Linked DNA regions of Homo sapiens. The protein of the gene in region 6 purifies or fractionates together with the protein of the main gene of each other region. This does not show direct contact. Each region holds a gene or a part of one and is shown on either strand. Other genes may lie near its edges.

What was found.
Region 1: the proteins of ABCC1 (region 6) and FADS3 purify together in Homo sapiens (co-immunoprecipitation; one large-scale study listed by IntAct). This does not show direct contact.
Region 2: the proteins of ABCC1 (region 6) and TBC1D9 fractionate together in Homo sapiens (co-fractionation; one large-scale study listed by BioGRID). This does not show direct contact.
Region 3: the proteins of ABCC1 (region 6) and TMOD2 fractionate together in Homo sapiens (co-fractionation; one large-scale study listed by BioGRID). This does not show direct contact.
Region 4: the proteins of ABCC1 (region 6) and NEO1 fractionate together in Homo sapiens (co-fractionation; one large-scale study listed by BioGRID). This does not show direct contact.
Region 5: the proteins of ABCC1 (region 6) and SEC63 fractionate together in Homo sapiens (co-fractionation; one large-scale study listed by BioGRID). This does not show direct contact.

The regions. Positions count from the first base shown.
Region 1 is NC_000011.10:61,883,962-61,889,111, forward strand, and holds part of FADS3 (fatty acid desaturase 3), read right to left. Parts: intron 2,799-5,150; exon of another isoform or gene 2,780-2,798; intron 1-2,779. UniProt on the Homo sapiens protein: Mammals have different sphingoid bases that differ in their length and/or pattern of desaturation and hydroxyl groups.
Region 2 is NC_000004.12:140,678,895-140,684,044, reverse strand, and holds part of TBC1D9 (TBC1 domain family member 9), read left to right. Parts: intron 1-4,201; coding exon 4,202-4,430; intron 4,431-4,841; coding exon 4,842-5,103; intron 5,104-5,150. UniProt on the Homo sapiens protein: May act as a GTPase-activating protein for Rab family protein(s).
Region 3 is NC_000015.10:51,764,498-51,769,647, forward strand, and holds part of TMOD2 (tropomodulin-2), read left to right. Parts: intron 1-1,875; 5' UTR 1,876-1,944; coding exon 1,945-2,070; intron 2,071-3,764; coding exon 3,765-3,921; intron 3,922-5,150. UniProt on the Homo sapiens protein: Blocks the elongation and depolymerization of the actin filaments at the pointed end. The Tmod/TM complex contributes to the formation of the short actin protofilament, which in turn defines the geometry of the membrane skeleton.
Region 4 is NC_000015.10:73,049,964-73,055,745, forward strand, and holds the start of NEO1 (neogenin isoform 1 precursor), read left to right. Parts: upstream 1-2,499; 5' UTR 2,500-2,712; coding exon 2,713-2,842; intron 2,843-5,782. UniProt on the Homo sapiens protein: Multi-functional cell surface receptor regulating cell adhesion in many diverse developmental processes, including neural tube and mammary gland formation, myogenesis and angiogenesis.
Region 5 is NC_000006.12:107,901,059-107,906,208, reverse strand, and holds part of SEC63 (translocation protein SEC63 homolog), read left to right. Parts: intron 1-1,487; coding exon 1,488-1,580; intron 1,581-3,210; coding exon 3,211-3,365; intron 3,366-4,691; coding exon 4,692-4,839; intron 4,840-5,150. UniProt on the Homo sapiens protein: Mediates cotranslational and post-translational transport of certain precursor polypeptides across endoplasmic reticulum (ER). Proposed to play an auxiliary role in recognition of precursors with short and apolar signal peptides.
Region 6 is NC_000016.10:16,045,942-16,051,091, reverse strand, and holds part of ABCC1 (multidrug resistance-associated protein 1), read right to left. Parts: coding exon 5,079-5,150; intron 2,951-5,078; coding exon 2,789-2,950; intron 1-2,788.

The DNA.
Region 1 (5,150 bases), on a different chromosome or scaffold from region 6:
GCTGGGCTCTCAGAGCTGGGTGGGCACCCTGGGGCTGTGCTTCTCATGCTATCAGGGAGTGCGAGTAGGGCAGGGGCCTGGACTCAGGCCGAAACCTGGAAGCAAACAGCCTTCTCTGGAACTGGCTGAGGTCATGTGACCTGGTCCTCTGTGGGCCTCTCCTTAAGGATGGGGGTGCCAGGCAGAAGCTAAGACTCAGAGAGGTTAAGCTACTTCTTCAAGGTCACACAGTTCCATTTGACCGAGGTTAGATCAGAGTCCAGGTCTCTTCTCACTCATAAGTGAGAGTTGAACAATGAGAACACATGGACACAGGGAAGGGAACATCACACACCGGGGCTTACTGGGCGGGTGAGGGGCAAGGGGAGGGAGAGCATTAGGACAAATGCCTAATGTATATGGAGCTTAAAACCTAGATGAGGGGTTGACGGGTGCAGCAAACCACCATGGCACATGTATACCTATGTAACAAACCTGCACATTCTGCACGTTTCCCGGAACTTAAAGTGAAGAAAACAAAAACAAAAGCGAAAAACTGTGCTTGTCGCCACTCCTGGAACAGAGGGGAAGCAGCAGTTCTCCTAGGTGGTGTGCGGGGGTCCTTGCCGTGAGGCCAGTCACTATCTCAAGAAGCCAAGGGCCCAGCTGCTGGGAGCCTGGGCTGGGGGGCAGGAAGGCGGTTCTTGGACCTCATCAGTGGAGCCTCAGGGAACTGTGGGAGGTCCCACCCTCACACACCCTAAGTGCACCCAGGAACATCCACCCAGGGGTACGTGCACAAAGCCCTGTCCCCCCAACCCCCACACGCACCCAAGCGAGTGGAAAGCGGCACTCGACGTCTCTCATCGGGTACCGGAGCAGAGCTGGGTGAAAGTGCTGGAATCAAAACGGCACCCCTAAACACAAGCTCCTGGAGGTAGCGACAGGCTCTGTTCACAGTGGCATCCTCAGAGGCCGGCACAGAGCAGCTGCTCAACAGCAGGTATGAACAAGTAGACAAGAGCCAACCCTCCACAGCCCCCAAAGCAGGGGCACGAACCATTTTGCTGGTGAGGAAATGAAGGCTCAGCGGGAAGGGACACCTGCCCAGGTCCCAGTTAGTAGTGGCAGAGCTGGGATTCGAACCCGGGCCCATCTTCTGTGATGTTCATGCTCTCTCAGGATACAGAGACAGCTCAGCCTGGCCTTGGTCCCTGGAAGCCTAGAGTGGCTCAGTTGGCCCCAAGATCCCACGCCCTGCCCAAGCCCCACCGTGAATCCCACACAGCAGCTGGTCGGGGGGGTGTCCCAGAGCCAGCCTGCCCAGGATGGAACCTGAGCTGCTATCCAGGAGCCAGGGAGCCCCAGACAAGACCACACCCATCTCTCATCAGTATTTCTCATCAGTAAACTGGGAACCACAAATCCCCATCTCACAAGGCTGCTGGGAGGATGCAGTCGGTGGCGCTAAAGCACTTAGAAGGGGCCTGGCGGTTGGCAAGAGCTCCACAGCCCAGCTCTTTCTGAGCCCTGCAGCCCTGATGAGCCTCCTCCTGAGAGTCCACTTAGAGGTAAGTGCCTGCAGGAGGGGCCTACAGGTGTCAGGGAAGAGAGTGGAGAAGCTGCTTCTCTGCCTGCCTGTTAAGTCCTGGCCAAGCCTGAGGCTGGGAGAGAGGAGGGGCTGGCAGCCTCCTTCCACCCCAGAGACACAGCAGGGCAGGGAGGGATTTTGGGTCACTCCCTAGGAGAATCAAGAATGTGCCAGATCAGTCAGGAAGGGGGTGAAGCAGGGAGTGTGGCAGGGCTGCTGAGGGCTCAGGTGGTCGGGGTCTGTCCTCGCTGCCTTCTCATGCCTTTGTAGGATGTTGGGGTGACAGGGCTATGCCTCAAAGGACACCCCCAGGACATTCCTGCCTCTCCCCTCTCCCAGGTGGGTGGGTACAGCAGGAGCGTGCCCAGCACACCATGCTCCGTCCCATCCTCTCCCTGGCGCCCGTCAGAGGAGGCCAGTGGGGAAGCACTATCAGTATCCCATTTTACAGATGAGGAAACTGAGGCCCCAAGAGGTCCCAAAGAAACACAGCTCTAAACATGGGACATCCAAATTTGGCCTGTGTAGCGGAGCCCAAGTCGAAGGCAGACACCCCCAAAAAGCTACCCCTGTCCCCCAGCACCCCTCAATGTCCTGGTGAAGGGTGGGCATATATGTGAGGGCTCCTGCAGCCAGGACGCTTGGCCTCACAAGTGTCCCTGACCCCACAGTAGCCCCAAAGCAGCTATACCCTCTGGCTCCTGGTCCTCTCTCCACCACTGACCTCTGGCTCCACTACTGGAGCCTGGCTGTTTCATCAGAAACCCGCAGGAAGAGACCGGGAGGGATGCCCAGGGGCAGTATCCTGCTGACGCCAGACAATCCCAACTCTTCCCACAAGGAAGGAGCAAGGCACTGCAGCCCCTCTGGGGAAGGGGCCTGGGTGGGCGGTGGCCTTGCAGAAAACGCCTGCGGGGAGCCCAGAGCAGTCACACTTCATGGGAGTGGCCATTAGGGGACTTTCAAGGCAGTCAATGTGGTAGGAGGGAGTGGAGTGGCTCTGGAGCCACCCCCCAACCAACTCCTGTGGCCTCAGATCTGCCTAATCCTAGTCCTGTCCCTCCCCAGCTCCCACCCAGACACAAACCCCACCCTCGTGGCCCGAGTACAAAGGCCCTACCCTTCAAGGGTCCTGAGAAGGTTCCATTACACCCCCCAGTTTCAAACTCAGTCTCCTCATCTACAAAATGGGCTAACAATAGGACTTACCTCATAAAGTTGTTAGGCGAATTCAATCAGTTACCACATCTAAACCCCTCAGAACAGTGCCTAGTCAATAACTGTTGGCTGCAATTACTATGAAGCAGCCTCTGCTGCAGCACTGGCCACTCCCTCCTCCAGCTCAGGCCAGGCTCAGAGAACCACCTAGAAGGAGGGTCCTAAGGCAGAGGGCTCAGGGGGTCTGCTGGAACTTGGATTTTCCCACAGTTGTTAGGGCTTCAGCCGAAAGGGCACCAGGGGCTGCTGGGAAACTCCTCATCCGCCCTGAGTTGCTGTGGGCAATGCATTCACCACACCCATGAATAGAGCTTTGTTGCCCATGGTAACCAGGCACCCAGGTGCCCAGCACCACCCTCATAGTGTGCCCAGGACAAAAGCATTCTCATCCTCATCACACTAATGGGGAAACTGAGACCCAGAAGTGAAAGGATGTGTCCAAGATCATAGAGCGAGGCCAGGCTGGCTCCCTCTCTAAAGACAACATGAAGCTAAATCTAATGTGTCTAATGGCTCTCACTGGACCAGTGTGCCTGTGTCCACAGCCTCTCTTGCTCTCTGCCCTGGCCACACTCTACCTCTTCTGAGTGGCCTCCCTTGGGGGAGGGCAGGTCTCCATCCTCCCTTCTCTTACCCTTCTGGAAGGCTCTGCCTTCACTCTCTCCATTAAGGATCCTTTTAAATGTCCATCAGACTCCCCAGGCTTCCCTGCTGTGCTCTCTGGGGCTCCCCATCCTCTTTAAAATAAAGCCAAAGTCCTTCCGAGGACACAAACATCCAGCATGAGCCAGCCCGGCCGCCTCTAGACCTCACTGCCAGGCCCTCTCTCCACTGCTCTCTGCTGCAGCCATACTGTATTCCTGGAACACAGGACGCACGGTCCCACCTCTGAGCCTTTGCTCTAGCTGATCCCTCTGCTGTGAACTCATTCCCTGTAGAAGTTTTGCTCACAGCTACATCTTCAGAGGTGAGAACCATGCATGACACAGAGAAGATGCTCACTGATGGATTTAATGAGTCAAACATTGAAGAATCAATGAGTGCCGGAAATAAACAGGATAGGTGGCAGCATAGCATGCCCTTAAGAACATGGCTGTGGATTCAAATCCCAGACCAATCACTGAATTTCAAGCCACTTTGCCTCTCTGAGCCTCTGTTTTCTCATCTGTCAAGTGGCAATAACAATAAATGGTACGTGCCTCATAGGGGCACCTTGAGGATTAAAAGAGAGGGTTTCAATAAATCAAGTACTGATTTCAAAACCTGGCACATAGTAGGCACTCAGCACATGGCCCTTATATACTTATGGCCAGCAGCGGCTGGGCCTCATCCCTCCCTGGCTGGCTCCACTAGTATCAGGCTGCCTATGACTCTCAGACAAACCTGGCCAAGGGCCCAGAGTACTCTCCCCAGGGCACCCGGCCTTGTGTCCCAAGATGGCCACAGGCTGACTTCATGGCACAGAAACTCTGGGAATTTCCTGGCAGGAAGGCTTCATTGCCTGGACTTGAGAACAGCTGATGGGCAGCCGGGGCTGGTGAGAGGTGACCGCTGGAACACATCCCTGGCAACTGGCTGCCCCACCTCCACCTGAGGCCACCGCCCGGGATGGGATGCCTGGGGCCTGGGCTCAACTACACAGGGCACTGGGCTGGCCCAACCCCTGGTCTACCCTGTGGGTTCATCATGGACAAAGACTGATTGCACCATCCCAGCAACCTCACAGTCCCTTTGGCCTGAATGGACCAAGTATTTCTGGCAACTCTAGTCCAGGCTGTGGGGCCTTGAGGGAGCTAAGAGACAGCCTAAAGTGTCCCTTTCCTACTTCAGATAGGACCGTAACCAAATAAGGTCACCCAGGAAAGGGGTAGCCGTGCAGGGCTGTCCCACCATACGCTGCAGTTTGCAGGGCACGCTCACACTTAGGGGCCAGCAGCATTTACCGAATACAAACTACTACCTGGCAGCCCTGGGCCATGGGCTTGAGGAGACACAGTCCTGCCCTCAGCCAGCTCACTGTCTGCCCCAGCTCTCCCACTTTACAGATGAGTAAACTGGGGCACAGAGGAGTGACATGCCTGCTTCAAGGTCGCTCAGTGCCTCCAATAGCAGAGCTGGCACCCGGCCCCAAGGAGCAGAGAGATGTTTTTTGTTTGTTTGTTTGAGACGGAGTTTTGCTCTTGTTGCCCAGGCTGGAGTGCAATGGCGCGATCTCGGCTCACCGGAACCTCCGTCTCCTGGGTTCAAGCGATTCTCCTGCCTCAGCCTCCCAAAGTGCTGGGATTACAGGCATGCGCCACCACGCCTGGCTAATTTTGTATTTTTTTAGAAGAGACAGGGTTTCTCCATGTTGGTCAGGCTG
Region 2 (5,150 bases), on a different chromosome or scaffold from region 6:
GACCAGTATCTACAATATTGTTATATAATTTTTAGTTATTATTCCATAATTGACTTTACCATTTCTGTCTTTCTAGAAGTCACCTTAGCTTCTAGACTAGTGGATGGCAGGTACAAATAAAAATCCAGTTAATACTTTTGTTCAAACAGTGTAACTTTACCCACAGGCTGTGTTTTTCCCCCTTTGGGATAGATTACAAAATTTGGATGAATGGGTTAAGTAGTTTAAGTATTTTTAATAGACCTTAGTAGATATTGTCAGTTAGAATCTCTGTGTGATTACAGCATTGCTTGCTTTCAGCATTTTGGTTGTTGAAATTATTTTTCAAATATAATAGGTAGAAGTTAAAGCCTTAATGTTTTAGTTTTGTCTTTGGTTATTATGGGGTTGAATATTTTTTCATGTTTGCTAAGTTAAATTTCTCCTTTTTGTAAATTACCTGTTAATATTCTTTTGCATATTTAAATTTATATTGAACATCTGATATAATAGGATTTTCCAAAGTCATGAGAAGCTGTTGCCTAGAACTGGAATGACCTATTTTATATTATGCGAAACCTGTAGAAAAACCTGTAGAACCTGGGAAGGAGCTATTCTATCCCTGTATTCCATAATCTAGTCTACCTGGCTAAAAAATTATAGCCAACTAAGAAAGGGTTCTACATTCTGGATTATTTCCTTTTTTAGTGTTGAGAAAGTTGGTATTTTAGCCTTATGGAGACTATTAGCCTTACTGTTGAAATGAGCTGGCAAAGCCTTGTCTCTTGATACTAGTATATTAGACCCTAGAGTGTTTCTGAGTGATGGTTCTTGACTGTATTTACTCTCATATATAAAAGCATTTTCTCTTTAAAATTTCAATGAGCAGGCCAGGTGCGGTGGCTCACACCTGTAATCCCAGCACTTTGGGAGGCTGAGGCAGGCAGATCACCTGAGGTCAGGAGTTCGAGACCAGCCTGACCAACATGCAGAAATCAAAAATACAAAAAAATTAGCCAGGCGTGGTGGTGCATGCCTGTAATCCCAGCTACTCGGGAAGCTGAGGCAGGAGAATCACTTGAACCCAGGAGATGGAGGTTGCAGTGAGCTAAGATCGAGCTATTGCACTCCAGCCTGGGCAACAAGAGCAAAACTCCATCTCGAAAATAAATAAATAAATAAATTCAGTGAGCACTCTAGAAATGTGGTATTTAATAGATCTTTAGATAGCATACTTCTGCTTATGGTTTGTTATATGTCACTCATTCTCACATTCTCCTCATTTTGACTTTAGGTAAGAGCGCTACTACAGTGACCCAGGAGAATAGCATGTTAGCCCACTTGAGGGTCTCCAGGCTTCTCTAAGTTGTTAGCCTTTGGTGATTCCCTGGAGGCCCAGCTGCTGCTTTCTGTTAGCAGGTTCTCATTCAGTTATTTTTATTTACTCATTCATTTATTTAATCTTTCATTCATAGATATTTTTTGATCCTTCTCTAAAGGCACTGACAACTTTGAAATGTCACATAGGCCACAGGTGTATTTGCCAACTGCGAAAGGCATTTTTCATCCCTTTTCCCTTCTGAATTGACTTCTCCTTCCCACCCACGGGTCCCATGCCCTCATGCTGCCTTCAGTTGTCTGAAGTTCTTAAAGTAACACTACCAACGCCTGCTTGTCCCTAGAATAGCCTGGGTCCAAAATTGAGCTCCCTCCTGGCCTTCATCGAGCTTAATGTCTTTGTTCTCTTGGTAGAGTGATATCAGTGGTAAATAGAGGAAAATATCCTTATGTTAGATATTTTTCCAGGGAAGCACATTGCTACTTCTATTGCTATCCATAATGCCCTCCAGTATGACAGAGGAACAGAAGTTAGCAACTTGGTACCTAATTTCTCAGGCATTGCTAACTCCAAAACAATTGTAGATTTAGAAATCTGCAACTCTGGATTATACAATAAAGACTAAGATATGGCCCCTTAAGATATCTTTTAATTTGGAAAAACAACAACATGGATTCATTTAGTAATATTGAACATCTTTTAGGTGCTAGATATTGGTGATTAAAATGTTCGAGACATTCTTTTTATCTTTGGAATTCATATTTAGTGGTAGAAGGACATATAAACATGCTATTTTCTGCCAGCATGTAAATTAAGACAACATAGACGTGAGAATGCTTAGAACCCATTTGGAATTGGGCTGGTTTCACAGGGAAGGTGGTATTTATGCTGGACCTGGAAAGGTTGACTTGGGAAGATTGAGAGCAGATTTTATGGGTTAAGATTCAGTGCAGATTTCTTTTCTCTTTCACTGAGAGCCTGTGGAAGATTATAAGGTGGGAATACTGTAGTCAGATCTCTGTTTCAGAAAGTGGCCATGTGAAGTAAATTGGAGTGTGGAGAGTGTTGTCAGGATGCCATTTGAGAAGCTATTATATAGTAATTCCTGGACTGTGTAGAGGGACTTTGGGATGCTTTTGTTAGAAGAATAGGATAAAGACTTGTCTTGGGGCTGTGCTTGCATCGTAAGCCCACCATTTGCTGTTATGATTATTGTCTACATGCTTACTTTTAACTAGAATAGGACAGTGACAGAGATTATAGAAGACTGAAGCCCTTTCTCCTGCCATCCACTCAGCAGCATCACAACTACCGGCAACAGGGTGAAAGGTCTGCAGTGGAAATAAGACTCAGGAAATGATTTCAATACATAATGCAGAGAGAATCAACATTACTTCATGTGGGGGGAAAAGAATGATAGTTGAGAAAAGGCTCACAAGAGACTTTGAGACTTGGTAGGATTCACGAAACAGAACAGTCTGATTCCAGATTTCAGGCATGTAGAATGGGAGGGCCATAGGCAAAAAGGTGGGAAAGTGCAGAAATGACATGTTCAGGCCCCAAGGGTGCCTCAGGCTGGCTGGAGCACAGTTACTAACGGGACATTTGGGTAGGATGTAGTCCAGTGAGAAAAAGTTGCGGCATTGGTTGGATCCAAAAATGTACATGGGTCTAGGCTACTCTGGGCACACTGCCTGTGGGTTACCCTGCTTCACAAGGAGCAGCCAGTCTGCAATAAAAATAAAAATTAAAACATTAAAACAAACAAAGTGTACATGATCTAGATTTTTGGACTTTATACTGGTGGTGGTTAGAAACCACTAAGTATTTTGGTAAGAATTTTGTGGTCAAATCCATTTTAGGAAGACAAATTTTTAGGGAGCATCAAGGATGCACTAGAAGCTTTAAGAGCCCAAAAAGCAGGAATTCTAGGTATGAGGAGGCAGTTGCAATTTTCTATCCTTGGGCTACAGAGAGCTCAGTCATGTCAATGAGAATCTGAGAAGTTGGCCAAGGCTACACAGATACAGTGATGCGGTGGGAGCACGAATCTAAGACTTGCATGCTCTAAAGGTCATGCATTTTCAGTTCTACCTTGAGATCAGAGAAAATGAAGATGAGGCGGGAGGGATTTGAGGATTACAAAGTCAAAGGTGGAATTCAAGGGAGCATTTTCCATCGAGATATATGTAGAAGCCAATTTTCAGGGAATTACAGAGGAACTGGGTAACAGTGAAATGGCTTCTCAAGTTATTATAATGATTGAATGGTAGATTAACCTGGTCACTTGCTATGCAGATGTTTCATTTCCTGTCTAACTGTCCAAAAATCCTGCATCTAATATAATTTTTGCTCTCATATCTACCCCTTTTCTGCTCAGATGATTACTCGTTTTTCCCTGTAGGCTCCCCAGTGTTATTCATGGCCCTGAGACAGTGAGTGTGGAGCTGAGTGTCAGTTGGTGACATGTGTTTGGTCTTTCTTTCCTCACTGGCTCATTCATGATGAATTTTTATTAATCTTGGAGAAAGGCAGAAGTTGACTTTTGAGACAATTCTACCATAATAAGCTTAGTAAAAACACTAGGACTAGCAAAATCTTTGTATCTCTTCATTTGTAAAGTAAAACTATAGGCTTCATTCCTAGTAAACTTAACAAAATAAAATTAGCACCAATAAAAATATAATAAAATCTATATTATGTGAAAATATTTTAGTACACAAATACTACTCAATAATTGGCTTAGAATTTGGGGGTTGCCATTGAAGGGCATTCCTCAATTTTTTTTTTTAATTCTAGCCTTAGAAATTTTTTCTTCTGGAATATGTACATCTCTAGTCATATTAATACCAGTTGTGTGCTTTGTGTTTTATTCCTTATTAGGGCATCATTGCAGAATACAACAAAATCAATGATGTAAAGGAAGATGATGACACGGAGAAGTTTAAAGAAGCCATTGTGAAATTTCATAGGCTGTTTGGGATGCCAGAGGAAGAGAAACTCGTCAACTATTACTCTTGCAGCTATTGGAAGGGGAAGGTCCCCCGTCAGGGTTGGATGTACCTCAGCATTAACCACCTTTGCTTTTATTCTTTTCTTATGGGAAGGGAAGGTAAGTCATCTAAAATTTCAGCAGGAAACTTTGGAAAGTCTACTGAGGTTTGCCCTGAACTCATAAACCACATCAAAATATCAGAAATAAATCTATAGTTATAACTAAGTCAATACTAATTTTTTTTTACTACTGAAGTGAATTTAATTATTTTTCAGTTCAAAATGGTCACTAAGTAATAAAGATTCACTAAAGGTGTAATTAATTCAGTAGACATGGATTAAATCTATAATTCTGACCTCAGAATTCACATGGCCCAGATTTACCTCTTAAAATGAACAAGCAAAACAAATATGGTATTATAAACTCAAAGGAGTTCAGTGGGATGGGGGAGTGGGGTTGTGAGACTGCAATATCTTGAAAGCGTTTTCAGGAATCAGATGTTGACCCAGGCTTGTTCCTTGTGCTCAGCGAAACTGGTCATCCGGTGGGTAGACATCACTCAGCTTGAGAAGAATGCCACCCTGCTTCTGCCTGATGTGATCAAAGTGAGCACACGGTCCAGTGAGCATTTCTTCTCTGTATTCCTCAACATCAACGAGACCTTCAAGTTAATGGAGCAGCTTGCCAACATAGCCATGAGGCAACTCTTAGACAATGAGGGATTTGAACAAGATCGATCCCTGCCCAAACTCAAAAGGAAATCTCCTAAAAAAGTGTCTGCTCTAAAACGGTGGGTGATAGAGACCTTGTATCTTCCAGACTTTAGAAATGAGAAAC
Region 3 (5,150 bases), on a different chromosome or scaffold from region 6:
CATTCTTCATTCTTATGATTTGAACTCATAAAAAAAGATTGGCGTGCTCAGATCACTCCCCTACTTTAAGAAGCTGTGGTGGCTTGCCATTCCCAACAGAATAAAGTTCAGGTCCCTTAGCAAGGCGCAGAAGGAAGGCCCTTCACAGATGTCCCACCCTCGTCTTTAGTTCTTTCCTCTCCCTTCCTCCATGAATCCCCCTCTGTAGCCATGCCGCCTGCTCTACCAGCATATCATTTACTGTCTTATCCTGTACCCCTTTGTGCTGTTCCCTTTTCCTAGAATGACACTTGCCCATTCATGTCCACCTTATGACCTCCTCCTTCAATGTTCAAACACAGCCTCTTTTTCACAGTTTCCCCTCAAACTTCCCCCACTTACTCAGTGATTATTTCCCCATGTGTTTTCAAACCTACTTTTTACATTATGTCTAATACTTACGGCATTATTGCTGTTTGTGTGAGAGTCTCACTAAGCTGTGATCTTGGGGAGAGGGGGCATTTTGATAAATATAATTTTTTTTTTGAGAGAGTCTCACTCTGTCACCCAGGCTGGAGTGCAGTGATGCCATCTCAGCACTGCAACCTCTGCCTCCCGGGTTCAAGCAATTCTCCTGCCTCAGCCTCCCGACTAGCTGGGACTACAGGCACATGCCACCACACCCAGCTAATTTTTGTATTTTTAGTAGAGATGGGGTTTCACCATATTGGTCAGGCTGGTCTCAAACTCCTGACCTCAGGTGATCCACCTGCCTTGGCCTTCCAAAGTGCTGGGATTACAGGCGTGAGCCAACGTTCCTGGCCTCCTCATGTGTTTTTAAACCTACTTTATACGTTACGTCTAATACTTATGACATTATTGCTATTTGTGTGCCTGTCTCACTAAGCTGTGATCTTCTTGGGGAAAGGTGGCATATCTTGTTTATCTTTGTATTTCTGTTTGCTAGAACTATGCCTGGCAAATAGTAGGTATATAACAAATATTTATTGGCCTGAAAGATGTGATTGGTGGTAATACCTCCTAAGGAGAAACACAGTCAGTGAAGTACATTACTGTTTCCTGAATGAGTATTATCTTTCTAAGGAAGATCTGTAGAATCCTCTGCAAGGAGAAAGGGATTGAGTAAAAATTGCATTTTGGGTGAATATTTAGAAGTGAGGTGGTATAAAAAATAAGGGTCGAGAGAAGAACGGTCTGAGGGTATAAAGAATGAATACGTAGAACAAAAAGGAAATGGGACTAGAAATAGAATGGAAAACAAAGCAAGGAGAAAAATAGAGAGAGTGATCATGTGGCCAGGATTTTAGAATCGCACTTAGTTTAATTGCAGGGGAGTTACTGGACAATGCTTTCTCACATAGACGTTCCAAACTCTCGTTCCTGAATGAATCCCATTTTGTATTCTTCACATCACTCTCTCCCTGAAAAGACACAAGTATGCTTCTTACAACTGCCTTACAATTAGTGCATTGTTCTCCCCTGTTTTTCTATGGAGAGCCAGGGAAGGCAGAGTAGTATAAGGGAAAAGCACCCACTATGCTGGGAATCAGAAGGCGGGGCTCACGCATCCCAGCTCTGTGACCTCGAGCAAGGCACTAGGCCACTTTCACCTCAGAATTGTCATCTATAAAATGGGAATGATAATATCGTCACGGGCTTCCTCACAGGATTGTTGTAAAGATCAAAATAAGTGAAATATGTGAAAACACTTTGTAAGCTGTCAGGTTGCTCTGCAAATGAAGGGAATATTACCTTTTTGTTGAATTATTCATTCAATACAGTAGGCTCCATTGGAGGCATACTTCTGTCTCCTGTTAATAAGTCCTGTTTACAGAACGGAGATTCTTTTTTATTGTGTTTCTTTTTTATTAACAGTATTCTGAAGTCTCAGGAAACTGGACCATTTAAATGTGCATGGCCCATGAGAAAGGCTTATAAGAAGCCATGGCACTCCCCTTTCAAAAAGAGCTGGAGAAATACAAGAACATTGATGAAGATGAGCTTCTTGGCAAACTCTCAGAAGAGGAACTGAAACAGTTGGAAAATGTTCTAGATGACCTAGATCCTGAGGTTAGTGACATGGAACTGAAGCAGAGTGGTTAATGATAGTATGGATAAATGGCATGGCTTGGTCCTTAAACAATGGTAGAAATCCCTTAGCTCGGAATGCACATTTTCTTTTCTTCCTCTGATTGGTTCTGGGTCACCTGTGTTTACAAATTCATAGAGAACCTCATAGCCACTACAGTGTGATACAGCAAATGTATTTCTCAAAAACCAGCCCAATGTAAATGGGGGGAAATATTTTCCGTTGGTTGAGAAAGGACTAGTCTTGTTTAGGGGAAAAAGAAGGAAAGAGGAAAAGAGAGCAAATCTTACTGAGTTTTTTCTGAGTCATATATTTCTCTGGGCACAGAAGCCCTTGAGGTAAACTTTATTAACCCCTAGACATGGAGAGGTAATTTATATAAGATTCCACACTGGTAAGTGTCAGAGATGGTATTTAAACCAGGTTTTTAGGCCCAAATGCAGAATTTTTTTTTTTTTTGAGACAGTCTCACTCTGTCACCCAGGCTGGAGTGCCGTGGCAAGATCTCGGCTCACTGCAACCTCTGCCTCCCAGATTCAAGCGATTCTCCTACCTCAGCCTCCCAGGTAGCTGAAATTATAGACACATGCCACCATGCCTGGCTGATTTTTATATTTTTAGTAGAGACGGGGTTTCGCCAGGTTGGCCATGTTGGTCTCGAATTCCTGACCTCAGGTGATCTGCCCACCTCAGCCTCCCAAAGTACTGGGATTATAGGCCTAAGCCACCACACCCGGCCCCAAACGCAGATTTTTAAAAATATCTCATTTCTTTCAAATGCACAAATAATGTGAACTCTTTGATGAACTTATAACAAAGAATAGATTAGACTGACTATAATCATGATACCAAGTTCATTTCAATGGAGTTTCTAATGTTTTTATAAGTTCTTGAAAAGCTAAGTCGCTTGTTATATTGTTTGATTAGCAAGCACTTTCTTCAGACCTGCTGGTATGATCTTAAACTTAGAATTAGCAGTACTTTTATAAAAAAAGATATGCTGGAAATTGCTCCGTGTAATTTTTTAAATAAAAAGTCAATTACGGTTAAAAAAAAAAAATCGGAGCCATCCAAAATAGTGATTTTACCATAAATAAAAATATAACTAAAACAAAATTATGTATATGGTATTCTGATATGTCAGATACTTTGGATATGGTATTTACTTTTAAAAATACAGATATTCTGTTGTTGTTTTTTTAAATTAAGGAAGGAATCTGAAAGCTTTATCAAGCAGGCATTAACATCATCATAGTGTTTACTTATCAGCTTTACTGCTTCTGCAGGAGAGGGGTTCCCCATGTCAGCTCCTTGTTAGAGTCTCATGTTTCTGCCTGGGAGCACCTTGGGTGCAGCCCTAGCCAAACCTAAGCATGATCTACAAGGAAAGAGGTCTTTTGCCTCCATGTTTTAGGAGGCAGCTTCAGAAACTCAGAGGCTGCTCTAGCCATCTATGCGCTGCTTGAGCTCATTGGGAGCCCCCTCTCAGCACTGAACATTATAACAAATAGGGCCTCAGAGGCGTCCCAGAGCCCCCAGCCCTCAGCTCACACGCACATTCTGCGTAGGTATCCTTCCTGCTTCCCCAGCACATAGTGAGTGGGGGTGGAAGAGGAAGTAGCAAAGTACAGGCCGGCAGACATCTTCCTTCCTGCTCACACCTCTTTCTTGTCAGAGTGCCATGCTGCCAGCTGGATTTCGACAGAAAGACCAGACACAGAAGGCAGCCACCGGCCCCTTTGACCGCGAGCACCTCCTCATGTACCTGGAGAAGGAGGCTTTGGAACAGAAAGACAGAGAGGACTTTGTGCCCTTCACTGGAGAAAAGAAAGGTAAGGACCACAGGCAGAGCATCTTGGAACAGAGGTTCTCTCTTTTTTTTTTTTGGAACGGAGGCACTCTTAATTAAGATTACCTCTTTTTATTTTATTGTCGTGGAGGATCAAGCAAGGGAACTGTCCCAGACATGGGAAATAAGCCCATGAATTGGATTCAGTATTTATTTTATTGTCGTGGAGGGTCAAGCAAGGGAACTGTCCGGGAAATGGGAAATAAGCCCATGAACTGGATTCAGTATTTATTTTATTGTCGTGGAGGGTCAAGCAAGGGAACTGTCTGGGAAATGGGAAATAAGCCCATGAACTAGATTCAGTATTTATTTTATTGTCGTGGAGGGTCAAGCAAGGGAACTGTCCCGGAAATGGGAAATAAGCCCATGAACTGGATTCAGTATTTATTTTATTGTCGTGGAGGGTCAAGCAAGGGAACTGTCCCGGAAATGGGAAATAAGCCCATGAACTGGAGTCGGTGTTAAAAAGAATCATGGCTGCTAGCTAGACATATGTCATTCTACATTGGGCCAAACCCATAAGATGTGTAACACCAAGAGTGAACCCTAATGGAAACTGTGGACATTGGGTGATAATGATGTGTCCATGATGGTTCATCAGTTGTAGTATAAGTATCGCTATGGTATAGGATGCCATTAGTCAGGGGAGGATGAGTTGGGGAGAGTACATTGAAAGAAAAAAGAAACACGATCAAATATGTAGGCTAACTGCTTATGGTGTGATGGTTCTCAAATTAGTTTAGTGAAAACATCTCGAACCCCAAAGAAAGTTTTGAAAATGTGAGGTGGTGTCATGCCTGAGAGTTTCCTAGGCACTGGTGTATTTCTCTTAGCCTGGTGCTTTACCAACTTCAGAAGTCCCTCAAGGCCTTCTGCTCCATGTCCAGGATGGCTCTAGCACTGCATCCCTAACCTTAGAGGCTACCATTAAAGTCTAGTGCAGTCATTCATGCATCCATCATCTACTGAGTGCCTCCTCTGTGCAGAGGCTTGTGGCCAGATGCTAGAACCACAGGCAAATAAGACCCTGCCCTGCCCTCAAGGAGCTTGTAGTGAGAGAAACAGGATGACAGAGCTAGGAAGGCTGTGAGAAGCAAGGAGTTGTTTTTCCATGCCAGGATTGAGCTCTGAGCCAAGAATAGGAAACCCTCCTCCTTAGCTCCCGACCCTGTGCTCCCCTTGGGAGGAAGAGTGACTATCAATAGCCTGTCC
Region 4 (5,782 bases), on a different chromosome or scaffold from region 6:
TGCATTTCGATAACTTTTACAGACACACAATGGCCACTCTGTTTTCTTTGCTCTAAAGTTTCTTTGTGCACTTATTCCTTGAACATGGGCCTCATGTTCTAACTTTACTTAGATGAAAAAACTGTTAATTTCACCAGTGGTTTAATATCTCTTCATAGATTGATAGTTTAGACAACATAAAAGTGTTGATTAGCAGTATACGTGCAGGCTGAAGTATTTGTTGAAAATCTTGTTGGGAGAATAAGAATGATAAAAGAGATGCCTAAGAAAATCTTTTCTCAGATATGCTTTACTAAACAAAGAACAGGTTAATTACTCAATGATGATTTTTAAAGGGCATGTCGACAGTGTCAGTGACTTTGAAACAAAGTAAAGGAGCTGAATTCAAGTGTGTGCCTGAGTTACTTAACTATCTTGAACTGATTTAGGATCTGTAGCTTTAATCTGGGGCTCCATCTACTAGTGGTTTAATAGAGTGGGTTTTATTAAAATTGTGATTTAATCAGAAGCCAGAAATATACAACTGTTTTAAACTTTTTGATATTAACCTGATATACACAGTGGGCTGATAAATTAGTGAGACAGTTCATATAAGTCATATATGAAAATCAGTCTGTTATTAGCCACAACTCATGTATTTTTCAAAACTTGGAGATAAATGTAAGCTTCATCTCAGAAGTCATATTACACGTTATAGGTTTAATATAATGAAATTTTTCCAGACTTAGAAAAGATATCAGGAAATTAACATTTGCAAGGCAATTTACAGTTTTCAAAGAGCTTTTCTCATTAATTATCTCAGAAAACTGAATAATGATGTGATTATTAAAGGTTAATTAAGCAAATACTTGTGAAGTAATTGGGAGGTAATCTATTTCTAATTTAACAGGTCAATCACGGGTATTTAGGAAATATTTTTGCTGGTTAACAACTCTAACCAAAACAAAAAGGTATTTAAATGGTTTCCCTAGTGAAAAACCATAAGCATGTGTTTCCTCTATTAAGTCAATTGTTTCAAAGAACTAGCATGAGAATTCCTAATTTCACCGTTTTGATGATTTAAGGTTTTATGAAGATTCTGAGCTCTTCCCTCCCGACGTTAATCCATGTCTTACATTGTTCATTTTGGCGCTTTAGAATAAAATATCTTTGGAAAGTAACTATGAGAAAGCACAGAGGGATATGTTAGTGAAATAGCCATTTTCTTGTGGGAAGCAAGACATTTCGGTTATCGACTACACAGAAGAGTGAATAAAACCCAACGCCTATCAACCACCAAACGTGACTCTGCTTGCATAATCATACAAATAAATTTTCTTTAAAAATTTTTCATGGGTGCAGTATATAAAATGATCAATAGTCTCATCAGCAGTGGAACTACAAACTGCTTTCTCCTAACTTTGTGTAGCCTGGGTGCTGCCTCACGATTACTAAGTGGTTTAAAATCATATCCCACTTGCTCCTTGGTTTATCAGCGAAAGACGTGATTCCCAGGTAGGAAAACGCCAAGTGTCCCGCAAAGGTACAGGTAAAACGTAGCAGTTACTGCGAGAAGACTGGCCCCGGGGAGTCCCAGGGCTCGGTCGGGGCCCCCGCACGAGCTGAGGAAGTGGACAGCGGGCACCTTTGTCTGTGCCTAGTTCCCTGGACCCGGGCCGAGCGATGCGGGTGGGGGCGCGGTTCGGGCGGGTCCCGGCGCTGCCCGGGGGAAGCGCGCGGCGACGGCGGCCCGGCTTGGGAGCCGGAGGTCAGCGGCTGCGCGGCCGGCCCCCTCCCACGGGAGCCGCGCCAGGGCCCAGCAAGAGTCGGGCGGGATCGCTATTGTTTTTGGCGAGCACATAAATCCCCGGGCCGACCCACTGCGCACCCAGGTTTCCTCCCGGAGGCCTTTCGGTTTCCTCTGAGGCCCTATATAGAGGCTCCAGGCCCGGACTGTGCAGAGGTGCGCGCCCACGCCGGCCTCCCGGACCAGCCTGAGCTCGGAGCGCCTCTCGCCCTCAGGTCTCTGCAGCCAGAGGCATCTGGGGAGGTGAGGGGGGAATTTGTCCCCGAGGCGAGGAGGAGGAGGCGGGGGCGCGCGGAGCCGAGGGGCTGCGGCGAGCGGGCGGGAGGAGCAGGAGGATCCGCTTCTCCGGGGTTTCCCTGACGCCAGCAGCAGCGCCCGGCGCGCGCGCCCCGCACCCGTCAGCGGCTCCGGGGAGAAGGGGGAGGGGAGCGGGCCCGCCACGGCCCGAGAGGCGGCAGCCGGGATTGGAGCGGGGGCGGGCCGCGCGCGGAGCCGAGGGGGTGCGGGCGAGGCGCGCGCGTGCGCGTGTGCGCGCCCGGGACTCCCGCCCCCCGCCCCCGCCCCCGCCCCCGCCGTCCGCGGTCTCCGCCCCCCTCGCGCTGGTGTGTGGAGCCGGAGTCGGCGGCGGGTGGCGGCGCCTGGAACCTGGAGACCGACCCACCGCCCCCCCCCCCCCGCCCCGGAATGTACTGACTCCCCTTCTTCGCTCTCCTCCCCTCCCCGCCCCCTTGCAGGAGGGAGGCGCCCTGGAGTCTCCCCTCCAGCGAGAGGGGCTGCGCGGGCCGGGCCGGGCCGGGCTGGGCTGGAGCAGCGGCGGCCGCGGGAGCCGAGCTTGCAGCGAGGGACCGGCTGAGGCGCGCGGGAGGGAAGGAGGCAAGGGCTCCGCGGCGCTGTCGCCGCCGCTGCCGCTCACTCTCGGGGAAGAGATGGCGGCGGAGCGGGGAGCCCGGCGACTCCTCAGCACCCCCTCCTTCTGGCTCTACTGCCTGCTGCTGCTCGGGCGCCGGGCGCCGGGCGCCGCGGCCGCCAGGAGCGGCTCCGCGCCGCAGTCCCCAGGTAAGCGGCGGGCGCGGGCCCGGGGGTTCGCGGGGGCGCGGCACCGGCTCAGGCGGCCGCGGCTGCGGTGTTTTTGTTTAGGATCCAGGAGGAAACGTGCAGGAACTTCTCTGCCTCGGCTCCGGTTGCCGAAGAGAAAGGGGATCGCGCGTGGTGGGGAGGAGAAGGGCGAGAGGGGGCGCCACCGGGGAAGGGGCGGCTGCCGGGGGGCAGGTCGGGGGCGCAGGGGTCTAGTTCCCAGCTTTGTACCTGGAGGCAGGTTCACCCCTCGCCTCTCTCCCCTCCCCCAGGCTCATCCCACTTGTAAGAGTGGGACATTCTTGTGCTCACACTAGCACCAGTAGAGGCCACTACACACCTCATTAAATAAACAATCAGACGGCCAATTCATTAATTTTCAGGAAAGGAAAGGGGAGGGGGCTTGAGCTCCTGGTTCCCTGGCCAGGGATTTCCCAGCTTCCGAAGTCTCGAGGAAGAGCTGGCTAGTCTCGAGGGACTCCTCGCGCGGGGATTGGAGCCCGAGTCTGCGGAAGAGCGGGGGTGTCAGAGGGGCACAATTGCCCGCTCACAACCCCTGGTGTTGATTTAACGATGAGGACGCCTTGGAGAGCGGCTCGGAGTGATCGTATCTGTTAGTGTTTCCGTTATGAAATGCCTCTTCTTTCCTGGGGATTACAACTATATTTACAGCCTATTAACCACTCTTAACCAAGGGAATTGTCTAAGCATCAGATTTTAGGTACTTGTACAATGTTTTCAGATGGCATTGTATAAACATTGAACCTCAAAAGCCATTTTCAGTTCTTTTTTGGAATATTATAGATTACTGAAACCACCTGCATTCCTATTAAGGGGACCAACGAACAAAAATGCCAAGCCTTCCGGGAAGGACCTTACGGTATTGTTGAGCAGGATACACTCAGCAGTTGAAAGGCAAATTAGCATGTAATCTGTTAAAATTATTTGACCAAGGTGGTGTACCATAAAACTTGACAAAACTTTCACTCGTGTGAGATATGATATTTTTACATTTGAAAGCAGTCTTACCGCTGAACCAGTACTTGTTTTTCCCTGATTTATATGAAATAATATTTAAAATCACACTGCAAGGTAACTTGACTGATAAACTTTTCATTTCCTTGCAGAGTGTGTATGTAGCTCATGGCTTTTGCCAATGTTAAAGAACAGCTTTAAACGTAAAGTACCACTCGGTATTCTCTAAACAGCTACGTAAACAATAGTGTTTTAATGTCAAATTAAACATCACTTATGTCATGATGTACCCTTATACATTCAGTCCGTATATGGTTTAGAACACATTTTGGTGCTGAAATGCAGGTTACTGATCCAACTGTCTCTTAGATGAGCAAGAGAAATATAACTATTTTGGAAAACAAGTTCCTGTTACTCATGATCTATTTTATATGGAAATTCATATGTAGTTCACCAAATTTCAAGTTTTTGTTTAAAGTTTTGCCGATAATTTTGTAAGTAACTAAAATGCTAGTAATTTTATTACTTAGGATAATAAAAATAATGCAAGCAGTCTCAGGAAGTGGTCTTAACATCTGTTTCAACATTAACTCAATTGACAGGTTTTTATTTTGCACAGATGAGGTGCAAGGCATATGCTCTCTGCCTTCATGGAGTTTACAGTCTGGTGTGTGGGTAGGAAAGATAGCCATCCATCTACTGATTATATAATTAAGTAATTGTGATAAGCACTACAAAGGAGAATAGGTTTTCACAAAGTGGGTACTGGAGTGACATAACCTAGTCTGGGTGTTAAGAGTGTCTCACAAGAACTGAGATCTGAGGAGTGGGTAGGAGTGGAGGTGGGGAGGCTCACAGGTAATTAGTCGTTTAATTGGGTCTAGAACATAGATCTCCTGATTCTCGGTCCAGAGTCCTTCCTGTAAACCGCTCTGCTTCATTACAAAAGCGAGAGGAATAACTGCAATAAGGAGGGGTTGGTCAGTTCTGCCATAAAACTGCGGAAGAGATCAAGAGACTGGAGAACTGAGTAAGCAGCAACTGGAACAAGCTGTCCGCAAATCAGATGTCCTTTGTCAGTAGTTTTATTTTTTTTATTTTTGTAGAGTGATAGACTTATAAATCTTTTTATAGGGGATTATAGTGAATAGATTGTAGGGAAGTGGACATGTTCAGTAGTAGAAGGTGGAGAAAAATAGAGATGTGGGACAATAGGATAAATGGAAAGTGTTTTTCCATCTGAGGTTATAGACATACGGAGGTGGAGGAAAAAGTAAGAAGTAAAGGACTGGTGATAGAAAATGGTCAGCAAGGGAGGAGGGTTGGAATTGAGTAGGAACATAATCTGGTATTCTGAAAAAGGGCAGATTACTGAAAAGATATGTAGAGACCTTGGGGAAGATGACATGGCAGCAGCCTGTGCAATGCATGTCTTCTCTATTTAGAGTGAACATTCTTCACCGAGGACTCTGTAGCTTCTGCCTGAACCATTTATTTCATGATGTGATTCATTGCCTTACAGGGTAGTCCATTTCTGTGTTGAATAACTTCTGTTAGAAAATGTTGCTTTGTACAGTACATTTCACTGTAGTTTTCACCCTCCCCACCCTTCTTACATTTTTTCCTCTTTGCTTACCTTTTTCAGCATTACTCTATCTTCAGGTTAATCTCTTCTCTGATTAATTCTTCATTTGTCTTTCTGGCTTTTCTTGAACTCACTCACTTAAATATTAGTATCTAAAGCTTATCTCATTATACATACTCTGTTTGCCCTCAGTTGCCACCTGTAAGCTAAGGACTCTCTTAGTCCACACTTTCTCACTTGCCACTCGGTACCTTCACTAAATAGGATCTTAGGTTACTGAAGTCCGAAGTTAAACTCTGTGTCATTTTCCCTCGTGCTTCCTTCATCCCCATTCTCTAAACATGAACAAACCAGTTCCTGGC
Region 5 (5,150 bases), on a different chromosome or scaffold from region 6:
GGCAGAGCAAGTGTCTTCACATGGCCAGAGCAGGAGGAAGAGAGAGATGGGGGAGATGCCACACGTTTTTAAACAACCAGGTCTTGTGAGAAGTGTATCTCGAGAACAGCACCAAAGGGAGAACTCCACCCCCCTGATCCAATCACCTTCCACCAGGCCCCACCTCCAGCATTGGGGATTACCATTCAACATGAGATTTGGGTGGGGACACAGACCCAAACCATAGCATGGTGGTGCGGTGTGTTTTGTTGCTGTTCTTTTTTGGCCAAATAATTGCTCAAGGACTTTTTAAAAAAGAAATGTATATGCTACATAATTACTTCACAAATGGTTTGAAGATCTAAGTAAGTCAGACGTTTTGGCAAGTGTTAAAATTTAGTGTTTCAAGGTGAGAGAATGCTCTGTATAAGAAATGTTTAGTTAATTGCAGATCATACAAAAGTTCCTAATAATTTTTTTAAAGGACTTTGTAAGTTTTTGGAGGGAGCAAAATGGATTTCACAACAACCAACACCTCTCACCTCCCCATCTACAAGCTTCCTCCGACAGTGGTTACCAATAATGTCTGTTTTATAGTTATTTAAAGCTTCATAAGTACTTGAAGCCATGTATTCTGCTTAAAAGAAAAGTAGTTGATGGAGGCAACAGTGTTTCCAGGGATGTCATTAATTATCTCTTTTTCACCGACATTATTTCAGTTAAAGTTTTAAAAGACAGTTACTACCTCTAGGAAATAAATGTTCTTTTTGAATGATATCCTACCATCCCCCACCTCCTTTAAGGCAGTAATGCAGTTAAATGCTTCCGAAAACAAGGCCATGTGACGCTTAGTAATTGGTGATAGGACAGGATGCTTATGGTGGAATGAAGGAGCACTATTTAGGCAATATCATTGGAGTTGCTTTGAAATACTCAATTAACTAGTAATTCTGTTGCTAATGTTCTGTACAGATACATAAGCATCTCCATTTTTACTTACCTGTAAGAAGCAGGAAACAAATCATTGTTGAGTACCAAATCCATAGGTTAATGTGGTCTTAATAGTTAACTATTATATGCAGTATAAATGAAAGAGTCTTTCTCTTTCTGTAAGTTGCCCTCTTCTTCTCTTCTACGTCTCTTATCTCTCCCCCTGTATTTAGCTGACATATTTATTTTGACATATTTAGTTGATCTGCCTGCCTCAGCCTCCCAAAGTGCTGGGATTATAGGCGTGAGCCACCATGCCCAGCTGGGAGTTGGTTTATTAAGCCTAACATTATGATATTAAAAATTTGTCTTTGAAACGTCTAATCTGAGCTAGGGTTTTATGGCTGATTTTTGACATAGTGATACTGAGGAGAAACTCTTCCATTCAATCTGTAAAATTCTGAGATCATGTGAAATATTTGTGGCATAACTTTAATATTAGTTTTGGGCCACAGTGATAAAGATGCTTTAACTGTAAAATTAAAATGATCTGTTTCAGGTTTTTTATTGTTTTGCAGATCAGCAATTCATGCTAAAAAAGTGTCCTGCCCTACTTCAAGAAATGGTTAATGTAATCTGCCAACTAATAGTAATGGCCCGGAACCGTGAAGGTGAGGAGGAAATATAGTTAATTATGTTATACTTTTTCTTGCAAGCATATGCAGATTGTACTTCATATTTTAGGATTTATGGGTACTCAGACTTCTGTCGGCCAGTTCAGTGAGCTTCTTCAATTTTACTCATGTCTTTTCATATTTCTTTCCTATATTTTCTATTATTTAAAGTCTATATCACAGCTCACTGGGTTTTTTTTGTTCTTTTTTTTTTTTGAGATGGAGTCTTGCTTTGTCGCCCAGGCTGGAGTGCAGTGACAAAATCTTGGCTCTCTGCAACCTCTGCCTCCTGGGTTCAAGCGATTCTCCTGCCTCAGCCTCCTGAGCAGCTGGGATTACAGGCGCGTACCACCACACCTGGCTAATTTTTGTATTTTTGGTAGAGACAGGGTTTTACCATGTTGGCCAGGATGGTCTCCATCTCCTGACCTCGTGATCCACCTGCCTCAGCCTCCCAAAGCCCTGGTCACTGTGTTTTTGATTTTAATTCTTGTTTTTTTTTTTTTTGGAGACAGAGTCTCACTCTGTCGCCTAGGCTGGAGTGCAGTGGCGCGATCTTGGCTCACTGCAACCTCCGCCTCCCAGGGTCAAGTGATTCTCCTGCCTCAGCCTCCTGAGTAGCTGGCATTACAGGCGCATGCCACCACGCCCGGCTAATTTTTGTATTTTTAGTAGAGACGGGGTTTCATCAGGTTGGTCAGGCTGGTCTCAAACTCCTGACCTTGTGATCCACCTGCCTCAGCCTCCCAAAGTGCTGTGATTACAGGCATGATAATTTAATTATTTTATTGTTCAATTGTTTGCAAAGATTTAAAATTTCTCTTTCTTTGAATAATTTTTGAGTTAGGTCATTTTTTCTAACAGTGAATTTGAAATCTTTAACTGATATAAAAGTGATTCATATGTCATGTAATTTTTATTAATTAATTATAGACAGCATCTACCAGGGCTGGAGTCCAGTAGGGTAATCATAGCTCACTGCAGCCTCAAACTCCTGGGCTCAAGCAGTCCTTCTACCTTAGCTCTCCGAGTAGCTGGAACTACAGGTGCATACCACAGCACGGAGCTAACTTTACATTTTGTGTAGAGGTGGGATCTCACTTTGTCGCCCAGACTGGTCTGGTTTCCAACTCCTGGCTTTAAGCAATCCTCCCACTTCAGCTTCCCAAAGCCCTGGGATTACAGTCATGAGCCACATGCCTACAGGCACCTAGCCATTTTTTTTTTTTTGGTATGGAAGGAAAAGAATGAGGGAATTTCTGGTCAGTAATGGAAAGGAATGCCCTTAAAAAAGGATAGTGGTTATGGTTTGTTGTTACGGGTGATGTTGGTTCTTGTCATGGTGTCATATGTTGGTGATACTGATAATGTCTGATAATTTACTATTATTTGAGGTGAGGCAAATAATTTTTCTTTTAAATCAATGGTTGTTGCTGGAAAATGTTCATTAGATCGAGTTTGTATATTTTTAGTGTCTTCTCTGGTAACTTTTAAAGGAAAATCTTACTATGATCCTCAAATTTGAGGTGTTATGGATTTAGTGTGAATTTTGTTTTTGTGATGAATTGTATACTCCTGAACATGTAAAAAGTCCAGCCCTGTTTCTTTTTTTCCTGTTCTTTCTAAGAAAGGGAGTTTCGTGCTCCAACTTTGGCATCCCTAGAAAACTGCATGAAGCTTTCTCAGATGGCCGTTCAGGGACTTCAGCAATTTAAGTCTCCCCTTCTGCAGCTCCCTCATATTGAAGAGGACAATCTTAGACGGGTTTCTAATCATAAGAAGGTAATTCTTTGCTACTTTAAAGTCAGTTTTCAGCAGTTTGTCCTGTCACTTAAAGGTAACATGAATAAAAGTTTTCTGGAAATGGTTACTATGCATTTTTTAGATTTAGAATGTCTTAAATACTCTAAAACTTTCTCTCAGGTGGTTCTGTTAACATTTTCTTGACTAGGTAGCTGTGTTTTATAGTATTTTACTACTGTAAGTAGTTTTATTATTTTGGGGGTTGTTGCATTTAAAAAGTCAACAGTTAGTTCCTTATATTATGTTACCAAAAATAAATGTACTGTCTACTTTACAGTCATTTTATTCTTGGCTTAAGGTTGGGCAATTGTTTACTGGTTAAGCATGAACAACAAAAACATTTAATAAATCAAATAAAGACAGTTCTTATTTAGAATATATAATCTATAGTATAAACATGATAATGAATCTTAAGATATAACAAAAATTTGTGTAAATGAAAAACTTGAGGAAATATAAGAAACTGAAGTTACAATTCTAGTAGGAGATTTTAAACATTATTTTGTATATGATAGATAAAACTAGCAGAGAATAGACATTGGATTTGATAGTATATTAATGTAGAATTAATAAATGCATGTTGGAAATTAGTATCAGAGTTCTCTGTCCTTTTAAGTACTCATGTTCCCCTTATAAATTTGATTGTATGTTAAGTCATAATTAAAAACTTCAGAATCTAAAAGCAGAGATTTTACATGCCTCATGATCTAATCTGTGTCTTTGAAAGTGAAAAATAACTAGCACCAAACACCTGGAAAATTAAAGAACACGCTCCTAAGTAACCATTTTGCCAAGATGGATATTACTGTAGTAATAGCTATATTTTAAGAATAACAAAAATGAGAATATTGCATAGTAAAACTTTGAAGGTGCGTCTTTATTGAGGTTTATTTTTACTTTTATTAGGTAAAAGTAAACGTTTATTATTAAAGGTTTGTTAATAGTAAACCTATTAATTGCTAATTAAAGGTTTTTGTTATTAAAATTGAAAATAAACTGAGGACATCAATTGACAAAGTTCTTGGTTGAGTCAAGATTCTTATTTTTTCCCTCCAACTTTGTTTTTTCTAATTTAAAAAAATAAGCCTGTATTAACTTTATAATTTAAAAATTCTTAATTTAAATTTTCTTGGAGAAAAAGGTCATGAAATGCCATATCGTTATTTTGTACTTTGAAATGCACATTAATCAACACTTTTCTAAAAGTTGCTGGATTTTGTTGTGGTTAACATGTGAGTAATTTTCTTTTTATGAAAAGCTTTGTGAGTTAGGGAATTATGTATTTTCTTTTTTTTTTTTATTCAGTATAAAATTAAAACTATCCAGGATTTGGTGAGTTTAAAAGAATCAGATCGTCACACTCTACTGCACTTCCTTGAAGATGAAAAATATGAAGAGGTTATGGCTGTCCTTGGGAGTTTTCCATATGTGACCATGGATATAAAATCACAGGGTAAGTGGGAGGTTTCTCTGTTGAGCATTGCTTCCCTTTTGATAGATTGGTTCTCATTTATTTGACTCAGGATTCTCAAAACACTGTACTTAATAACATAACTTGTTATTAGACTTTGCAGAACTGTAGTTTACCTGTCAGATTTACTATGTTGGAAAATGATTTATACCTAATAGTTTGAGAACACTGATAGAGTCCTACTTTTATTATCCTCATAATGGGATGAAGTCTGAACACTCTGTTCTGTAGTTCAACTTTTAGCAATTTCTTAACTTTCCAAAGAATGATGAAGACTTCCAGGCATAATAAAA
Region 6 (5,150 bases):
AAGCAACTACCATCTAAAACAAAACGTGATGTTAGACAATTTTCTTAACGGTTCATAAACCAATCCTGAAGGCAGTTCTAGAACAAATGTTCCAAAAATATTTTTCCCATAGTAGCACTTTTACAAAAGTGGACTCCCCAAGACACCTGCTTGAAAAGACACTTTATTTAGATTTTTTTTTTCTTCTAGAGACAGGGTCTTGCCTTGTCACCCAGGTAGGAGTGCAGTGGTGTGATCCTAGCTTACTGCAGCCTCTGCACTCCTAGGCTCAAGCAATCCTCCTGCCTCAGCCTCCACGGTAGCTGGGACCACAGGTAGGCACCACCATGCCCAGCTAATTTTTTTTTTTTTTTTTTTTTTTTGTAGAGACAGGGTCTCACTATGTTGCCCAGGCTGGTCTCAAACTCCTGGCTTCAAGCAATCCTTCCACCTCAGCCTCCCAAAGTGCAGGGATTACAGGCGCATGCCACCTATATCTGTACCCAGCCTATTAGACAATTAAATTCTGGTGTTTTTTCTGAGTTTTATTATTAGAAACACTTTACTCACCTTCTGCTCTACAAATGTACAAAAAAAAACCAAACTACAGCCAAATAAACCAGTAATTTTTTCTTCTTCCTTTTTCTTTTTTTTGAGACAGAGTCTCGCTCTGTTGCCCAAGCTGGTATGCAGTGGTACAAACTCAGCTCAATACAACCTCCGCCTCCCGGATTCAGGCCATTCTCCTGCCTCAGCCACCCAAGTAGTTGAGATTATAGGCATACACCACCATGCCTGACTAATGTTTATATTTTTAGTAGAGACGGGGTTTTGCCATGTTGGCCAGGCTGCTCTCCTGGCCTCAGATGATCCACCCGCCTTGGCCTCCCAAAGTGTTCAGATCACAAGCATGAGCCATTTCGTCCAGCCCTTCTCTTTCAATAACAGATAATAATTTGAGCTGTGCCCATTATGCATCAGGCCCTGCTGGGGTTGTACCCACAGAAGACACAAAAGTCAGCTGCTATATGTCTGCAAGTAGCTAACATGTTACCCTTCAAAGAGGAGGCAGTACACTGAGCATGCAAAAAAAACAAAACAAAACTATTTCAGGGAGTGGGCTGGGCACGGTGGCTCACGCCTGTAATTCCAACACTTTGGGAGACCACAGAGGGTAGATCACCTGAGGCCAGGAGTTCAAGATCAGCCTAGCCAACATGATCAAACACTGTCTCTACTAAAAATACAAAAAAAAAAGAAAATTTAATGGGCGTGGTGGTGTAAGCCTGTAGTCCCAGCTACTCGGGAGACTGAGGTAGGAGAATTGCTTGAAGCTGGGAGGCAGAGGTTGCAGCGAGCCAAGATGGCACACCACACTCCAGCCTGGGCAACAGAGCGCGACTCCATGTCAAAACAAAAACAAAACAAAAAAAACTATTTCAGAAAGTATTATTAGATGAGTTCCTATACTAAAGTTATTGGGACTCAAAATTCAAAAGAAGAAGTCCATCTAATTGAGAAGGGAGGGTAAATCAATGGAAGTAGTGTTTGTTACAGCCTTGGGGGATGAGCAGGCTTTCATCAATTAGGAAGAAGGAAGGAAAGGTACGTGGCAAAGATCCAGAGGTAGCAAAGCACAAGGCATGTGTTGTGCTATGAGCCTCTTTGCTTATCATTTTATTTTGGGAACTCTCCCTCTCCACATGGAAGGGCTGTCAATCACATCTCTTCTGCCATGGGAGAGGACATGTGACCCAGGCTGGCCAATGAGAGAACTCTGCCTCCTGGGCCACAGTGATTGGTTCACGGGTGTGAATAGGACCAAGCCAGGCTAATCAGAGTGCTCTCTGAGACTGACTCTGGCTGTGCAGAGAAATGCTGCCTTGTCTTTTCTCTGGCACCTTTATCTATCAGGATGTTATCAGCCCAAAGCTACGGAGCCATGTAGGGAAGTACCACTGAGAATGATGTTAACTCAGAGGACAACAGGGCAGTGGGTGAAACTGAGTACTGACAACATTGCTTGATCTCCTGGATCAATCCACACCTGAAGCTAGTCCCCAGATTTCTGAGATACATGCAGCCCCAAAGTTCCCTCTATTTACTTAGGCTACTTTTTTTTTTTTTTGGAATTGGAGTTTCACTCTTGTTGCCCAGGCTGGAGTGCAATGGCCCAATCTCGGCTCACCGCAACCTCCGCCTTCCAGGTTCAAGCAATTCTCCTGTCTCAGCCTCCCAGGTAGCTGGCATTACAGGCATACACCACCACGCCCAGCTCATTTTGTATTTTTAGTAGAGACGGGGTTTCTCCACGTTGAGGCTGGTCTCGAACTCCTGATCTCAGGTGATCTGCCCGCCTCGGCCTCCCAAAGTGCTGGGATTACAGGCGTGAGCCTCTGCAACCGGCCACTTAGGCTACTTTAAGACAGATTTATATCCCTTGCAATTGAGAGAATTTTGACCACCATAATTAGGGACTAATGAATAAGTGAGTCTGGTTAGCGTTTGGGAGGATTCAAGGGGAGAAATATGATGTGTCGTCCATTGTAGGGTAGTTAATTACTGACACTGTCAAGGAAAAGAGAAAATGAAAACGCCATGCCACCAAGGAGAACATCAACCTGACAATTCAGGAAAGGAACAAAATACTGAGGAATTGGTTAACAGGCTGGAAAATAAAATATGAACCACAGCCGGAACTGCCAGGGAGCTCTACATGCCATTACCATCAACACCCACTCCCTCGGCCCACTGCCCACACGTAGAAGTCCCTCCCTGCATGCAAAGGGAAACGGCGTTAAACACACACCAGCCACAGGAGGTAGAGAGCAAGGATGACTTGCAGGGGGGCTGACCAGATCATGTTAATGTACGTGGCCAAGTCCATGAACCTCTGAGCGTCCACAGACATGAGGTTGACAATCTCCCCGACCGTGGAGGATTTTCTGGCTGAATTGGTGATCACCAGGGCCTGTGGGACAAAGGAGAGGGAAGGTGGGTGAGTGTGGCAGCTGAAGAGGCCTGACTCTCCCTCCAGACCCACGGAGAGGAAGGAGACTCTCAGGGGCAGAAATGCCGCAGATCTCTCCTCCTCCCCTCCCGACCTATCTGTCTGCCCAGGACGCCTGTGTCATCTCAAAGCCCACATTCTTATCCGCGGTGCTCAGTGCCTCCCAACCTTGAACTCATCAGTTGGCAAGGGACCCTAGGTGTCCTCGAAACCAGGGCTTCGCATGCTTTAATGTGCACACATGCGGCCGGGTTTTTCTGGGGGGAGTGGTGGGGGGTGGGGGGAGTTGTTTTGGATTCTGCAAGTCTGGGGTGTGGCCTGGGATTCTGCATTTCTACGCTTCCAGGCTGTGTCAGTGCTACTGGTCCCAGATCCCACTGAAGGACTGAGGGTGTGGGCCAGGGTCTCTAATCCTTGGCATTCTTGACATCTGGAGCCAGATAATTCTTTGGGGGGCTGTCCTGCGCACTGTAGGAGTTTTAGCAGCAATACCTGGCCTCGACCCACTACATGCCCTCGCCCCCAGTTGGGACAACCGAAAATGCCCCCAGATATTGCCAAACGTGCCCTGGTGGGGGAAAATGTCCCTAGCCCTCAAACATGATTGCACACTATCACCTCGTGAGTTTTAAAAACACTAAGACATTAGCAGGCGTGGTGATGCATGCCTCTGGGCCCAGCTACGTGGTGGGCTGAGGTGGCAGGATCGTTTGAGCCCAGGAGGTGGAGGCTGCAGTGAGCCAAGATCATGCCACTGCACTCTAGCCTGGGTGACAGAGCGAGACCCTGTCTCAAAACATAAAAATAAATAAAAAACAAAAACAATGACACCTGGGTGCCACCACAGCAATCGCAATTTCACTGGTCTGGTGCAACCTAGGTGTCAGGAAGTTTTTTTGTTTTTTCAGACAGGGTCTCATTCTGTCACACAGGCCGGAATGCAGGGATGCTATCAGGACTCACTGCAGCCTCCAACTCCGGGGCTGAAGTGATTCTTTTAACTCAATCTCCTGAGTAGACGGGACTACAGGTACGCACCACCATACCTGGCTAATTTTTTTAAATTTTCTGCAGAGCCAGGGTCTTGCTATATTGACCAGGCTGGTATTGAACTTCCAAGCCTCCAGTGATTCCCCCACCTTGGTCTCCCAAGCTGCTGGGATTACAGGCATGAGCTACAGTGCCTGGCCTGCATCAGTTTAAGCTCCCCAGGTGAGTCTAATTCACAGACAGGCCTGAGAATCACTCCTCTAGTTCATCAAGTACCTGCAAGACTGTCTCTTCCTAACCTAGGAGCCAAGCAGTTTCCTTGACCTCGAGACAAAAAAAAAAAAAAATTTATAGGGATCAAGAAGGTAATTTAGGTCCTTTGAAATTGGATGTACACAAATGCCTGCTACATACTCTTACCATGCAAGGAATGTGCCACCTGCTCAGTTCAAATTAAGAGTGACAACAGGCTGGGCGCGGTGGCTCATGCCTGTAATCCCAGCACTTTGGGAGGCTGAGGCAGGCGGATCACCTGAGGTCAGCAGTTCAAGATCAGCCTGGCCAACATGGCGAAACCCTGTCTCTACTAAAAATACAAAAATTAGCCGGTCGTGGTGGCAGGCGCCTGTAGTCCCCGCTACTCAGGAGGCTGAGGCAGAAGAATCGCTTGAACTCAGGAGGCAGAAGTTGCAGTGAGCCAATATCATGCCACTGCACTCCAGTCTGGGGGAGAGAGTGAGACCTGGTCTCAAAAAAACGAAAAAAAAAGAGTGACAACAAGCTGAAACACAGAATGTTAACAGCAGAATGAGGATCCAAACTTGGATTTCCCCACAACAAGGGCCACTGATCCATCTAAGAAACTCAATTACTCACAGCTGATACACAAAGACATCTACACGCCCACCCTTGAAATCAGCTTTCCTAACGTACAATGCCTGATGCGTGCTGTCCCTGCCACCTAAGGTCACGGAAGCTACCCTCATCCTACTGCTCCAGAAGCTGGGCTGGAAATCCCCACGCTGGCCCCAGAGTAACCCAGGGCTGCAGGAGGGGATGTGGAAGTCGGGCCACATGCCAATGGCACAGCGTCCCCTACCTTCCGATAGACAGCCCCAATGACAGCGGTCTTGATCCTCATGCCACTGACGAAGCAGATGTGGAAGTACTG